Regions from separate parts of the Homo sapiens genome. Here region 2 is linked to region 1. A link means that fine-mapping ties the variant in region 1 to the expression of a gene that starts in the linked region. Tissue or cell type: activated CD8 T cells. Region 1 holds a variant in brackets; the other region holds the start of a gene. All regions are shown on one strand. Distances are between the middles of the regions.

Evidence for each region. PIP is the estimated chance that this variant, and not a neighbour inherited with it, causes the effect.
Region 2: it holds the start of FAM107B, and the variant in region 1 is fine-mapped to the expression of FAM107B in activated CD8 T cells (Schmiedel 2018, PIP 0.95).

What each region holds. Positions count from the first base shown.
Region 1 is chr10:14,653,134-14,661,331 of GRCh38, reverse strand. The region is part of intron 2 of FAM107B (family with sequence similarity 107 member B); the gene reads left to right. It overlaps LOC105376429 (a long non-coding RNA gene), which reads right to left. Exons shown (of 5, transcript XR_930691.4): 2 at 7,366-7,498; 3 at 6,167-6,302; 4 at 5,108-5,163; 5 at 751-1,396. Among named protein-coding and RNA genes, the nearest start is that of FAM107B, 120 kb to the left of the region's middle. RefSeq lists an enhancer at 1,196-1,285. The variant T/C (reference allele first, on the strand shown) is at 3,259.
Region 2 is chr10:14,770,357-14,778,532 of GRCh38, reverse strand. FAM107B (family with sequence similarity 107 member B) reads left to right here and starts at 3,636. Exons shown (of 5, transcript NM_031453.4): 1 at 3,636-4,280. The coding sequence starts at 3,870.

The sequences.
Region 1 (8,198 bases):
CTTGGACACATCCAGAAATAATGTTTAATCTGGGCACCCCTTAGCGCAGTCAATTTGACACAGAGAATCAACCATCACACTTTTCTGGTAAATTAGTCCGTTCTTGCATTGCTGTAAAGAACTACCTGAGACGGGATAATTTATAAAGAAAAGAGGTTTAATTGGAACACAGTTCTGCAGGCTGTACAGGAAGCGTGGCTGGGGAGGCCTTGGGAAACTTACAGTTGTGGCAGAAGGTGAAGGGGAAGTAGGCAGGTCCTACATGGCTGGAGAAGGAGGAAGAGGGCGAAGTGGAAGGTGCTACATACTTTTAAACAACCAGATCTAGTGAGAGCTCACTATCACAAGAACAGGGGAAAATCCACTCACATGATCCAGTCACCTCCTGCCAGGCCCCTCCTCCAACATTGGGGGTTACAATTTGACATGAGGTTTGGGGAAGGACACAAATCCAAACCTCATGACCTGGGTAGCATCTCTTTCCTTTTTCCTTTCCATGGTATGTGTTCCTTTTCTAGAGCCTTCTATGGGTTGCTCTGCCTTTTTACTTTAGAAAGAAAGTTCTAGAATGAGGCTTCATTTACTCTCTTCTTATTCCACCAAATGGCTCTCAGAATAAGCCAAGCACCATGCACATATACCACATGCAATATACAAAAGCATTGGTATTGAATAAGATTCAATTGAATATTTGAACAATTTTAGCACAAAGACTCAGGTTTGTAGGTGACATACAGAAACTACGGATCCTTCACTTACTAATTTTATTTGTAACCAAATGAGTAGAAATTACATAGTACCACTTTTATAGAGAGAGGGAGATTAACAGTCTTTCAGAGGTGGCACATCTTGTCTTCATTCATTCATTCCCTTGTGGGCAGGGAGATGGATGAATGGGCCAACCATGCTTTCTTGAGATAATTCTTTTTGAAAATAAGTTGCATTCTTTCTAGTGGCCATTTTTTTTTAAGTGAAATGTGTTTGAAAAACGTTGGCTTCAATTTGCCATTCCTCTTAAACCATGCATTGCTTTAGAAACAGGCCAGGTTTTTTTGAATGCTGAAACAAGTTTCCAATAAGTGTACCATTCCAGAAGACCTTGTGGAATCCTCATTCTCTTTTAGGTTGCACTCAACCTGTGCTGCCAGGACCTCAAAGATTACACCACTTGGTCATACGAGGGGAGAATCCTGTAAGTTGGAGGCTGTTGGTTATGGTCAAAGGGTTTCATCAGAACACCCTCTTTTTGCTAAAGGTCACCTAGAACTGAGTGGAGCCCAGCACATTTTCGGAGTTGGCTGTCTGTGTCATCTGCATTTAGTCAAGTTTCATTTCCTGTGGTTTGTAGATTTCTTAAGTGTGAAGTAACGAACCCCAAACAGTTAAAATTCTTTACCTAAAAATGGATGAAATGAGAAAAAAAAATAAGTATTTTTGTAACTTCTGTGGGGAAGTGAGACTGGGGTTCCACTGAGCAGTTCCTTGTTGCTGCGCACATAAGGCCAGCCCCTCTGCGGGAAGGTCCATGACACTTGGAGTTCAGATCTCCTTGCTGGGCATCTTAGGAGGTGACAAAACGAGACCCATTTTCTGACAATTCAGACAAAGTGTCTGCTTTTACTTTCATGTCGTGGGAGAACAGTCAACAGTGCAGTTTCCACCAGAACCCACTATATCTCAGTCACACACCCCTCTGATTTTGTGCAAGAGTTGTTTATCTTCCATACAGATTTTTCTGAGTCTTTGGCCACAGATGAACAGAAAACAGTTGAGGTAGGAAGGTGAGAAAAAAAGAAGGGAAACTTATCCTGAGTTTGCTTTCTTTCCATTCCCTTAACCTTAGGGCAGACAGTTTTTTGTTTGCTTGTTTTGTTTTGTTTTGTTTTGTTTTGAGACGGAGTTTTGCTCTTTCACCTAGGCTGGAGTGAAGTGGGGCAATCTCAGCTCACTGCAACCTCTGCCCCCTCCCCACCAGCAATTCTCCTGCCTCAGCCTCCGGAGGAGCTGAGACTACAGGTGCGCGCCACCATGCCCAGCTAATTTTTGTATTTTCAGTAGAGACGGGGTTTTGCCATGTTGGTGAGGCTGGTCTCAAACTCCTGACCTTAGGTGATCCACCCACCTCAGCCTCCCAAAGTGCTAGGATTACAGGTGTGAGCCACCGTGCCCAGCCAGGGCAGACAGTTTGAGGGTTCATGGGAGGCCTTTAATTACGGAAAATGCTACTGGGGATAGTAGAGGACTTTTAGTGAAGACCTGGTCCCCAGACTCTTTATGGGACTTTTTGGTCTGCACAGCTCCTTCTGTTGGGTCTTTGTTTTCAGTGAGAGCTTCCTTGACCACTTTCTGCAAAACTGCAACCTTTCCTTCAACTCTTACTTCCTTGTTTGTTTTGGTTTTTGAAACCACTTGTCACTATCCACACATTATATAATTCACTTGCTTTTTGTCTGTCGTCCCCTTCTAGAAGGTAAGCATCATGAAGGCAGGGATGTTTGACCATTTTTTGTCCTGCTGCAAACATAATGAATGCCTAGGATGGAGCCTGACATATAGGAGGCACTCAGTGAATATTTATTAAATGGGGAATGAACCCTTGCTCTTTTTAAACTTGCTGAAGCAAGTAGATGAATCAATCACTTCTTGGCCTTTTGGCTAAATCAAGTGAAGCAGATGAGTCAGAAACTGGAATTGCGTCTTTTTCTCTTTGTTTTCTGCCCCCAGCTCCTCGCACAATTCTTGGACTATGTAGGAACTGAAAAGTAATGGTTGTTTGACTAAAGTATGCATGCATGAATGAATGATTGAGTCTGGTTTACAACGTGACTTTTGATGTAAAAACTGTTGTTTATTTGGGTACTTAACACATATAAAGCAAACCATGCTAATCCACGGAGAGTCAAAGATGAGTCAGACATGGGTCAGACATGGGTCTTGCCTTCAAGATGCTAAATAGACTTCCTTTGTCCTGAGTTTACTTTCTTTCTGTTCCCTTAACCGTAGGACAGTCTGTGGGGTCACAGGAAGTCTTTTCTTAGGGGAAATGCTCCTGGGGGTTGTAGATGATGACTTTCAGTGAAGACCTGACCTCTAAACTCTTTTATGGGACTCAACTATCATAGCTTGTATTTTAGTCTAAAGAATCTCAACATTTTGTCTCTATTTCAAATAATAGTAATTGGATTTTCACTGTCGTATAAATTCTTCCCAAGAAATGAAGGTTAGCCAGGTGCTAATTACGCCTGTAATCCCAGCACT[T/C]TGGGGGGCCGAAGTGGGTGGATTGCTTGAGCCCAGGAGTTGGAGACCAGCTTGAGCAACATGACAAAACCCCAACCTACAAAAAAAGAGAAAACATTAGCCGGGTGTGGTGGTGTGTGACTGCAGTCCCAGCTACTTGGGAGGCTGAGGTGGGAGGATCTCTTGAGTCTGGGCTGCCAAGGCTGCAGTGAGCTGGGATCGCGCCACTGCACTCCAGACTGGGCGACAGAGTGAGACCAGCCTCAAAAAAAAGGAAAAAAAAAAGTGAAGGTGGCAACATGCTTGTTGCTGGAGGTTTATTAGAAGAACATAGACATGAAAGTCATACAATCCCTGTTCCAAGAACTTAAAACACCAGTGAACAAGAGGCCACGGGCTGTAATATATATTAACAAAGAGAAAATGTTTCTAGAACTCATTTATAAATCTTGCATTATTAAGTGTAAGTAGGAGAAAGTTGGTTGGTTTTCCATCTAGGTTCTAGATTTATTTCCACATGCTAAGTCTGTGGAAATTGCCCTGGAATCCAAGGAGATGTTTCTCTGGTGACCAGGGGTGGGGGTGAAGATTTGGGGCTGGAGGTGTCTGTCTTTGGGAGGGTAAGGCCAGCAATGGTATGCTCCTAGTCTGAAGTGAACGAGACTTCCTGGCCTGCCTATTTCAAGATGTGCCAATCTGTGTCCAGTCCTCTGCCATTTTGCCTTGAGAAGGTGTCAGGCTAATGAGATAGGATTTCCAAGTACAAAGCACCCTCCTAGGCCGAATCTGTTAAGTGGTGTTACCACTCAGGGTTTGGAAACCCTGTCATTCATCCTCCTCAGAGTCATTGGAGAGCAGTCTGTGCTTTCCCCTCTCTACATGGGCAGAGAGCAAATTGCTTCCAGATTTTTCTGTTTAGGAAATTTAACAGATCATTTATTGTTCATAAATGGGAAAATACAAAAATACCTAAAATGAGGGTTTGATTTAGTCCTCTGTATTCAAGGTGAGCCTGATGTGGTGTTGATGGACTGGGCACATGTGCCTTAAAGAGGAGCTGAGCTGCACCTGTGCAGCAAGCTGTTTAGCCTTGACATTGTGCTCACATGCCCATGGGACACCTCAGTAGTCTAGTTAGTATGACCTATTCTTCTCCATCCAATCCTATGTCCTCTTAACACAGTGGGAATGGAGGCATGGAACTTTCCAGAAGTTTGCCCAGGTTGTAAGGTGAACCAGTTACCGGTTACCAGGAATGAAATTTTCAGTGTGCACAAATTGAAGCAGAATTGCCTAATTTTTTGTGTGTGCTGCAAGCTGCGTTTCTACACTCTTTCACTTTCTTTTACTATTTTCTTATTTGTTTGTTTAAAATTTAATGTTGGCCCTTTGTAAAAATTTCTTAGAGAAGGAGGAATTCTGAAGGTGACATTAACATCCAAAATCAGAAGTAAAGTGATGATCTTTAACTGTTTGCATCCTGGAGGAATCTCTCTACCCACTTCTTACTTCTCACTTCCTTCCCCCACATTGGTATAAAAAGAAGAACTTGTATTGCATGCCAGGAACCCGAATGTCCAGTCACTTGTCTCCTTGGAGTGCACCTCTCCTTCCATTCTGATGACATGGAAGGTGGAAATTGTCATCTAGAAATTTCAACTGGTGGTCACAAAGCCTCCCAAGAGAGAAAATCCAAAGTTTTCAAATCTCAAAGATGGTAATTGTTGGCGTTGCTTTTGCAATTTACCCATGTTTTCCTGAAAACCTTCAAATGAAGTGAAATTTTGGCCCTGGAAGTTCCCTGTGAAGTCAGCCTCTTTATCGCCCCCATGCCCCACACTGGTTCGGAGTGGTGTAGGAGCCACCTTACCTTGCTCTACTCCTCAGTGTTTCCTGGTAAATCAGTTGCTGCTCCAGAATTTGTATCTAGGAGGAGCACAGGGGCCAGAACAGGTTGAAAAGACATTAAAGGACTTGTCCTAAAGTCGTTCCTGCACAGCGCTTTATGGAAGATGAGAAAATATCAATTGTTTATATCAGCGATGGGGAGGAGGAGCTGATGAAGTTGGAGTGCATGGCCGACACTCAGCACCCAGCCCCTCTCCCCTTGCCCTTCACTTCAGTGCCTGTGACCCCACTTCTGGCACCTGCATGCCTCTCTGTAAAGGCTTCCTCTCACCCCAGAACCTGCCTCAAGCCCCTGAGGAGTAATTGTCACCCAATCCCTGATCAGACTTTGTGAATAAATACTGCAGCTCACTTTCCCTAGGGTAGGTAGCTGTGGAGCTGGCTCCCAGGGATCCCCAGGAGGGTTAAGCCTCAGTCCCTACAGGAGTAGCCAGCTGCATAAATCCTGTGGTGGCTGCTTTCCCTCCCCTGTCCCGGCTTCCCACCTCTCCTCCTGTTCCCTTCACATATGAACTGCTTCTCCCTGAATCCCTGCCTCAGGGTCTACTTCTAAGGGAACCTGAACTAAGAGAGGGTCCCTTGGCACAGTCACTGTGTTGAACACAACCATAACATATTTTAAAACGTTTGTGCCAGCTACTCGGGAGGCTGAGGCAGGAGAATCGCTTGAACCTGGGAGGCGGAGGTTGCAGTGGGCCAAGATTGCGCCACTGCGCTCCAGCCTAGGCGACAGAGCAAGACTCCGTCACAAAACAAAACAAAACAAAATATTTGTGAGGCTGAGATAGAAAAAAAAGAAAAGAAAACCCTATCAAAAATAATTAAAACACTAAATGCAAACTATCTTCTTTGACTACTTACTACTGCTATGGTTTGGATATTTGTCCCCTCCAAATCTCATGTTGAAATTTGATCCCCAGTGTTGGAGGTGGGGACTAAAGGGAGGTGTTTTGGTCATAAGTGCAGATCCTTCTTCATGAATGGCTTAGTGTCAATCTTGATGGATTGACGGAGCTCTCACCCTTATTTCCCATGAGATCTGACGGTTAAAGAATCTGGCACCTCGTTCTCTCTCTCTTGCATCCTCTCTTGCCATGTAATCTCTGCACATGCCAGCTCCCCTTTTGCCTCAGATGCTGGTGCCATGCTTGTACAGCCTGCAGAACCATGAGTCAAATCAACCTCTTTCCTTTATGAATTACCCAGCCTCAGGTATTTCTTTATAGCAATGCAGAATGAACTGAGACACTACCCCACAGACTGGTTAAAATGGTAGCATTCTCAAGCTTCTTAAAATTCCTTTTCTGAACACAGTTCTCTGACCTTTTCTGAACACAGTGTTCTATGCATCCACTGAGGGGCATTTAATGATTTTAATGATTAGTAAAAGGGAACGGGATTTTTTCACCTTGAAGTTGACTATCGCAAAGCATATCTACTTAGTTACTGGTGTATTTCAACTCAACTTGAACATGCTTATTTGAGCGTAAGAATGGACTTAAATCATAAAATCATTTATTTTTGAATTACCCTATGTGGGCCAAAATATTTGGATTAAATGCTGTTTGTTTCTGTGCAAAATGGAATACATAATCAGATATTTTGTTTTGAGCCTTAAACAACAGCTAAGAGTCTTAAACGAAACTAGCTAAGATCACCTCTGATTTCTTATCCTTCACCACAGAGAGATGATGAGAGCAAGAGATAATAAAACGCAACAGCAATATGTTACTAAAGACCTTTCTCCAATGAATTATGGCTTTCATTAATGAATTAATGCATAGCTGTAATTAATAATTAGGGTTAATATGCGGTCTATATTCCACACAGATATTCAGAAAATAGGAAGTAATTCTGAAGACCCGAAAGGTTATTTCAACTGCTTATGACTGATGTTACAACCAGAGCAAACTCAGCTGTAGATGTGTTTTTGTGGCTTGCAAATTTTTTGAAAATTGGTTGCCAATGTTTAAAAACTGGAAAATTTCATGTAAAAATCTAGGTTCCAATTTCTCTTGAGAAATTGTAAGAACTAGCCAAACCAGGCCTGCATTCCTAAGCAGTGGAAAAAAAAAAAAAATCAACTGGAGTTGCCTTTTTAGCTGGTACCTCCCTATCCTGCCTGGCCCCTGCAGGCATTTGGGGTTTAAATGCCAGGCTTATGACGTTAGAAGAAATATGAGATGAAAGGAAGAAACACAAACAAATAATAAACCTTACAGTTTTCAGGCAAGAAGAAACTCTTCCTTGCATATTTACAGTTGTGTGGACAGTGTTGTGTTTTTGCTTGTTTGTCAGAAATCTCTTCCTTGGCTGTGGTCTGAGGAGCAGGTAAGATCGTGTGGGGTCATTGCTATGGAAACAGGAGAAAACACTAGCCTCAAGCTTGTGGGCGTTACCTCACCCAGTGATCTTTACACAATTCCCTGAAGTTTCCCGCGGTTACATTTTACTGTGTATAAGAGGCTAATACTATACTTTTTAGGGGCATTTTTGTGATTTCAGTAATGAATAATTACAAAATATTTTGCAACTGTGCATTGCCACCAAGGAAATGGAACCACATGGATGACTGTGGCTGCACAGCTAGAAATAACAGTTCTAGCTTGCACCATGATGGCACAGGTGCTTAGAGGTCTCAGGAAAAGTTCCCGAACCATGGGCTTTTCTCCCAGAGCTCTTCCTTGAAAGGGGAACTGAGAGGCCACTGTGTGCTCCTGAGAGGCTGGAGTGAAGAACAGCTTCTGTTCTTGCTCAGCAAGGCTGGTGATGTGAAATTGCCTTTGAGAGCATTTGCCCGCCTGGCTGTGTGCCTGGCACCTTTTAGATAGATTTCGATCAGCATAACTCCAGTGTGCATGGTAATCATGGAAATTTTCAGCTTTCTTCTCCAAGGAGAAACTGATAAAAAGAACAAACTGCCCTTGGCTTTTTCTGAGCCATGGAAACAGAACAGTTCTAAGACTCAAAAAGTCAGGGCACATTTTGCAAAGGCCTGATTCTAGTATTTGGCCTTAATTGTAAATACCGTGGCAGTGGACCATTAGGTCACA
Region 2 (8,176 bases), 120 kb before region 1:
GTTTTTTAAATTTTTTATTTTTAAGACAGAGTCTTAAAATATGATGGTGCACAAGACATTTTTGAAGGCTTGGAGGTCACAGGAAGGGATTTAAGAAAAGAAAAATCCATTCTTACACCTGATTTCATTCACTCATTCATTTATTCATTCAATTATGTGCCAAGCCCCTTCTGGAGAGAATCAGCTGTTCACAGTGCAGCTTGCGAGGGGCTGCCACCCAGGCTCTGGAGTGCAGTGGGGCAATCTCGGTTCACTGCAACCTCCACCTCCTGGGCTCAAGCGATCCTCCCACTTCAGCCTCTCAAGTAGCTGGGACTTAAGACACTCACCACCATGCCCAACTGATTTTTAAAACTTTTTTTTTGTAGACACGGTGGCTCACTATGTTGCCCAGACGGGCCTTGAACTCTCCTGGCCTCAAAGGGCCCTCCCACCTAGGCCTCCCAAAGTGTTGGGATTACAGGCATGAGCCATCACGCCCAGCCAGATGTTTTCTTATATATGAACTTGTCTTCTATTGATTAACAATTAATTTTGTGATTACAAACTCTGGTGCTGCGAACATTCTGGGACATACATTTATGCACAAGTATATCTACAGAATAAATTCTTTTTTAAAAAAATTATTATACCTTAAGTTCTAGGGTACATGTGCACAACGTGCAGGTTTGTTACATAGGTATACATGTGCCGTGTTGGTTTGCTGCACCCATCAGCTCGTCATTTACGTTAGGTATTTCTCCTGATGCTATCCCTCCCTCAGCCCCCACCCCCTGACAGGCCCTGCTATGTGATGTTCCCCTCCCTGTGTCCATGTGTTCTCATTGTTCAACTCCCACTTATGAGTGAGAGCATACGGTGTTTGGTTTTCTGTCCTTGTGATATTTTGCTGAGAATGATGGTTTCCAGCTTTACCCATGTCCATGTAAAGGACATGAACTCATCCTTTTTTATGGCTGCATAGTATTCCATGGTATATATGTGCCACATTTTCTTTATCCAGTCTATTGTTGGTGGACATATGGGTTGGTTCCAAGTCTTTGCTATTGTGAATAGTGCCACAATAAACATACGTGTGCATGTGCCTTTATAGTAGCATGATTTATAATCCTTTGGGTATATACCCAGTAATGGGATGGCTGGGTCAAATGGTATTTCTAGTTCTAGATCCTTGAGGAATCTCTACACTGTCTTTCACAATGGTTGAACTAATTTACACTCCCACCAACAGTGTAAAAGTGTTCCTATTTCTCCACATCCTCTCCAGCATCTGTTGTTTCCTGACTTTTTAAAGATCGTCATTACAAAATAACTTCTTAGAGGTAGAGTGTTGGATCAAGGTCATTGGAAATGTCCTCTCTGGAGTATGTATCTGTGTGTGTGCACGTGCATGTGTGTTTTTGGAAAGCAGGATTGCATACTGAGAAAAGTATGAGCTCTGGGGCCAGGTTGCTGGACTCATCACCTTTTCTCATTTCCTTAAGCAGTGCTGTGACCTTGGGCAAGTTACTTAAGTTTCTGTGTCTTGGTTTTCTAATGAGTAAAAATGGGAATAATAATATCACCTTTCTTCTAGGGTTGTGAGGATTAAATGAGTTAATTTGCTGAGATTCATGTCTGATACCAAACACTCAATAACCATGGCCTGTTACTGAGTGTTATTCTAGGTCAGACTTAGCAACACACTAATCAGAAAGTCTACTGTTCTTAGCGGGCCAGTGCTGGAACTCCGATGAGTTCATGCGTGCCTCTGAGCACACCCACTGAGCGAGGAGAGGTGGTCCTCAGAGCCCGGATGCAAGCCCAGGGCCTCCGCAGACCTAGAAAGTGGCTCTGAGCTTTCTTCCTCAGCGGTCTCCTGAATGTGGCCGCTCGCAAGCTGCACTGTGAACTGCTGACTCTCTGTTCCAAAAGGGGCTTGACACATAATTGAATGAATATATGAATGAGTGAATGAAACCAGGTGTAAGAGTGCATTTTTCTTTTCTTAAATCCCTTCCTGTTACCTCCAAGCCTTCAAAAATGTCTTATGCAGCATCACAGCCCCGATTTACTATACGTGTGCTTGGAGGGGCACAGCATGGCACGACCCGACCCGAGTGGACTGTAGCAACCAAGTCAAATGGGAGACAAAGTGCAGTTCCGAGGGGTCTCCAGGAATATCTGGGAGGGGGGACCCTGGTAGAAACCTGAACCCCCTGATTTCTTATGGGTGGGGAATTTGGACAGCTTGCACTTGGGACACAATGAAAAAAGAATGAGCTCACAACCCTGGGAAGCCAGAAACAGCTTGGATAGCACGGGGCCTGCCACACGGTAACCTCTAAATAAATGGAAGCTTTCTATATTCTAACTTTCAGTAGAGACTAAAATAAAATGTGCATTTGATGCCATATCCACTCATTCTAAAGCCATATCTGCCTTTTTGTATTATGAATATGACTGTCCATTTAGAACAATATTTCCCGTATGGCCATTACATCTATAAAATGATTGTTAGATAGAATGAGACTCAGAGGACAGATAGGAGAACAGGGATCTCGGGCACCCAACAAGCCCTTCTTAGTGGCATAAACTTGCCTTAGTCACATGAAATTTCAAAGAATTGGTTTCTGCCTCTGTAAAACGGGAATCAGTGCCATAATATAATAACTACCACCTGTCTGGGCCAAAGAGCACATCTTGACATTAAATTAAAAGAGAGAGCAAACAAATTAATTAAGAGTGGGTAACATGCCCAGAAATCTTGACCCTAAAATCACTATTAACGGTAAAAGCATTACAGTATTACATTTCTATAACATTCCTAGCAGACAGTTGGCTAAGGAAAAATCTTGATTCTGAATTGTCTTAGAATATGTTTATAATTTATTATTTTTCACCATTCACATATTAATGTGTTGAGAAACAGAAGATCTATGTTCAAAAAGGAGTTACTTTCTGAAAGTAGGTGATATATACCATATAGGTAGAATACTTCACATGTACATAATACCTCCACACATAATAACATAATACATAAGGATAATTGTTAATGTAGGGCTCTCTTTTTTCTTTTTGGTATTGTTGAAAACTAATCAAGAACTTAGCCTAGCTAGTAAAAAAAAAAAAATCAAATTACCAAAGACCTATTTATAGTTATCAGAAAAGGCAATGTGGATCCTGAAACCAGGAAACTTGTTTTGAGGGTGGGGGGAAGATTCCGGGAAGATTCCGGAAAGATCCCGAAAAGTCCAGAAAGATTCAGAAAACACATCACACCGCATCTCTCCAGGCGAAAGATTGAGTCTACCTCCTATTTTAATAATGAAACAGCTGCTAGGGTCGTGGCCCTTCTAGGGGTCTTCATTTGTGATGGACAACTGGGTCGTTTTTGTTTTGTTTGGGGGAATAAATATTTGAAGGGGGGTAACCAAAGAAGGTTTTGCTGCTGTTATGATGTTATTGATACGCAGGCTGACGCTATTATGGCAGATGCTATCAGGCTACATTATCTTTATGCCTCCTAGGTAACCTGAAGCAATTGTCTATTGACTTGGCACTACCCTACCCTGAAGCGTCTGCCCTGCCTAGGAACTGTAACCGGAGCCACTCACATGCCTCCCCAACAGCTTTCTTTAGCCACTGACAGCATCACAGAAGGAAGAGCGCGAAATTGCCCAGGATGGACACTTTCAAAGGGGCCCCAGCGGCTAAGTGACTCTCAGGGAAGGTGGCCTTGCCATCCCAACTTCTATTTAGGGGCAACCACTAGCAAGTTCTTCTCTTCGGGCAATTGGAAAGAGTTCCTATAAGCAAAGTGGAGGTGATGTGGACCCCTGGAAAATTTCCTTGCCCCGTTTGAACTTTGCAATGATTCACTGCAAGTCATGTCCACGTGGAAAGCAAGACTCACCAAAAGACTGAAGTCTCCCTCTAGAAGCATGCATCCATTTCCGTGCTCAGCTCTGCTCGCCTGTTTTGGGAATACGAGGGAGAGTGCTTCCTTCAATCAGTCCGGCGTGGCTGATACTCATTCCACCGTCCGTGTGCAGCCTGTGGCCAAAGCAGGCAGACAGCCAAGACACCCAAGCGCAGAAGGAGCTCCAGAGAAAAGGCAAGATTCGAGCACCCATGCAGAGAGAAATGGCAGTGCGAATCGGAATTCAAGTCACCGCACTGCGGCCCAGCCCGCGGAGACGCCTGAAGATGTGCCCGGGTCCCTGGATGATGGGGCGGACTGTGAAGCAGTGGTGTTTCACGCTTCCATCCCCAGACCATCAATTATTGACACGCCCAAGGTGAGTGAGTGTTCGCTCTGCGATTATAGACGGGATGGAGCTGGAGGAGCGTTGGGATCATGTGGCGAATGTTTCAGCAAACAAACTCATTTAACCTTACTGAATAAGGCATTGCGGGCGTTCTCACTAGTGCGAAGAAGTGTGTTAAAGCCGTGTAGATTCTCAGAGTGTTCTCAAAAGATGTGGATGAGGCAATGATAATAAGCACTGGAGCCATGGCAATGACCGAAGGTAACCTTGAATTAACGGGCTAGGGTGCCTTAGAGCCAAAAATGGCTCACTCAATAACAGATTAGGAGTAAGATAGTTTACAAAAACATTTTTTTCCTTTTTCTATTTCCCCCTCCACCCCCACCGGTCTGTCAATTTATTTATATGAAAATCCACAATCTAAAAAGTTTGGCTAGGGAATTCACAAAACTGCCTCTACTTAAAATGAATCACATGATATCAAAGCAGTCTGGAAAAATTTGGAAATGATCATCAGTGTATGCCTAGTGGTACGGAAGGGAACTGACCTATAAAACTATTCATAATATGGATGTTTTTGTGATAATCTTCTGAGAGTTGAAGGCAGGAGGAGGAAGTTATTTAAAAAAAATGGTGCCACTGCTCTTAAGAGTTATTTACTTATTTTCTTTCCATTTTTGGCATCAGTGAATTTTAATTGTTGAGTATTCTGATTAGATGGAGCTGTACAATTATTTCAAAGTTCCCGGTAATCCCAGTTTGCAGATGCAGTGTAGAGGAAAGGTTTTCTAAAAGGTACACTCCAAAGATATCTCTTGACCATTTTTGGTCATTTCCTAGCCAAGTAGCTTAGGACCAGACTTAAAAAACTGAGAAGTCTTTGGGGATCCATCACTAAAGTATTCTGATTTTTTAAATCATTTTTCCACATCCGTTTAACAAATTATTTTTTGGTCTGGCTTGCTTCACAGAATCTAAGAAGCCTCCTTAGCAAGAACACAGCCAACCAGCAAAGATAGGGTTAAAACATCATTTAAAAAATAGTTTCATTTGACACCCTGCAGGTTTATATGAAATGACTGAAGCTTGGGTCTGTCGTCTGCATTCTGAAATTGGACAGAGAGTTTTACCATATCCTCTGTCACAGCAAAAACTGCTATGTTTTTTTCTAGCACCACTAAACCAAAGCCCATAACCAACCAGCAAAAACCAAAATTTTCAGTGTATAGCCACATCCAGATTAAGATATTTTTGGTAGTATTATAGGTAGCTGATTAGAATTCATGGCCAAGTTGATATTTGTTGGATATTTATGGTACCAATGATGTACAGTTTTAATGAACCGGAAGACTTTCTGTTGAGCAATGCAGACCCACCTTATATTACTGAAGACAGCCGCAAGAACAAAGGGTTACTTTGATTTTATCTTTCTGTTTTAGTTGCACATGGGACTCAGGGACTCAAGGCAAGCATGTGAATTCAAATAGAACCAATAACACAAAATGGGGCCACATCCATGTTTAGTGTCCACTTGGCAGGAGCAAAGCCATGGGTGGTCCACAGCGTAGGATGGATTACAGTTGGGAAGCCCGGAGCAGAGAGGACATTGTAACAATCCAGACAGGAACAACAGGGAGATAAAGTGGGAGGGGCTCCATGAGGCAGGACACGCGGCAGTTGACTGTGCGGTCCAAACCAGGCAGGGAGGGAAGCAGTGATGCAATGCAAACACTGAAATCAAGTGCCAGGAGGTGCAGGAAGAGGGCCTGATGTGGGTAAATGGGCATCTATTCTAGTTCAAACACCGAGAGCTAAGCTGTGCAGAGCACTTGTAGTTCGCTAGCCCTTATTCTAAGTGCTTTACACAGAGTATCTCAGCCAACCCTGGTGACAGTGAGGTGCATATATATATATATATATTTTTTTTTTAAGATGGAGTCTTGCTCTGTCTCCCAGGCTGGAGTGCAGTGGCACGATCTTGGCTCACTGCAGCCTCTGCCTCCCAGGTTCAAGCAATTCTCCTGCCTCAGCCCCACGAGTGGCTGGGACTACAGGTGCCTGCCACCAGGCCCAGCTAAGTTTTTGTATTTTCAGTAGAGATGGGATTTCACCGTGTTAGCCAGGATGGTCTCGATCTCCTGTCCTCATGACTCCCCCGCCCAGCCTCCCAAAGTGCTGGGATTACAGGAGTGAGCCACCATGCCCGGCCAGTGCATATTCTTATGGTGCCCATGTTACAGAGGAGGGCATGGATGCTTAAAGAGGGTAAGACATTTGCCCAAGGCCACAAAGAGAGGATGTGGCAGAGACAGGACTGGAACCCACTTCTGTTTGACTCCAAAGTCCATCCTCTGAATTATAATGTGCTTCTACTACTAATTAATTGTGTAGTGTTTGAGGATTTAGGATCAACTATTCATATGTGATCTCGCTTGATACTCAATCACATTTAAATATCATACATATTGGCTGGGCATAGTGGCTCATGCCTGTCACCCAGAGCTTTGGAAAGCCAAGGAGGGAGAATCACTTGAGACCAGAAGTTTGAGACCAGCCTGGGCAACATAACGAAGGTTCATCTCTACAAAAATGAATAAATTAATTCCATGTATTTATATGTTGATGTCGATATAATTATTATTTGTTTTTTAATTTATTTTTATTTGTTGTTATTTTAATTGATATATCACAGTTGTATATTTTTTGGGGTATGTATACATGTATAAATGTGTAATTAAATCAGGGTAACTGGGATATCTACCACCTCAAACACTTACCTTTTCCCTGTGTTGAGAACATTACAATTCCTGTCTTCTAGCTATTTTGAAATACACAATAAATTATTGTTAACTATAACTTCTCCACCGTACTATCGAATACTCGAATTTGTTCCTTCTAACTGTACTTTTGTATCCAGTAACCAACTCCTCTTAATGATATTCAATAACTATTATTATTTGTTTTTATTCATATGCTTTACCCTTTTCTACCATAGCTTCATGGTATATAACACCACAGAAGATGTCCATTTTGCATCCTGTGAGTGACAAAGCTTTGCCGCTGGCAGTGTGGGGGATTGCTTTGAGATCTTCTGATTAAAAGTGGCTTAGAACTGCCCAGATTTTTCATTACCAAGTGACTTTGCAATGGCATGTTTTCCCTTAGCAGATGATGAATGAGATGCTTTTATTACAATCTTGCCTGGCGGAAAAATATTTCCCTTTTGGATGCACTGATCCTCATTATTTAAGCTGCCTCTGTAGAGGCCACAAATAATCTTTTTTTTTTTTTTTTTTTTTTTTTTTTTAGTTCAGCCTCAGACATAAGGTAAGAAATGGGGACAAGCCCCTCTCTCTATCTTCAGTTACCTGATGTTCAGACAGGAGGGTGGCTCATTTATATTGGAAACAATATCTGGTTCAAGAGAGAAAGCTTGAGGTAATGAAGCTAAACAAACTAAGCAAATATGAAACATTTTTGTTTGGTTTAGTGATGAGCGCACATGTCTGTATTGAAGAAATGCTATTGATCAGTCTTCAACTTTTTGTATTCATCTCTTTTCTGTTCCAGACCTGAAACCAAAGTGATAACAACCCTAAAATGGGAATGTGTCTTATAATTGTTAGTACCTCTTAATGATAACTTTTCCCCTTCTTAGTGGTCTTGTAGTTGAAGTGTCATATCATTGATGGAATTGTAGACTCAACGAAATTCAGCAGTACTGCTGTTTATTTTATTTTATTTTTATTTTTATTTTTTTGAGGCAGAGTCTTGCTCCATCACCCAGACTGGAGTGTAGTGGTGCGATCTCGGCTCACTGCAACTTCTGCCTCCCGTGTTCAAGTAATTCTCCTGCCTCAGCATCCCAAGTAGCTGGGATTACAGGCGCCAGCCACCACGCCTGGCTAATTTTTGTATTTTTAGTA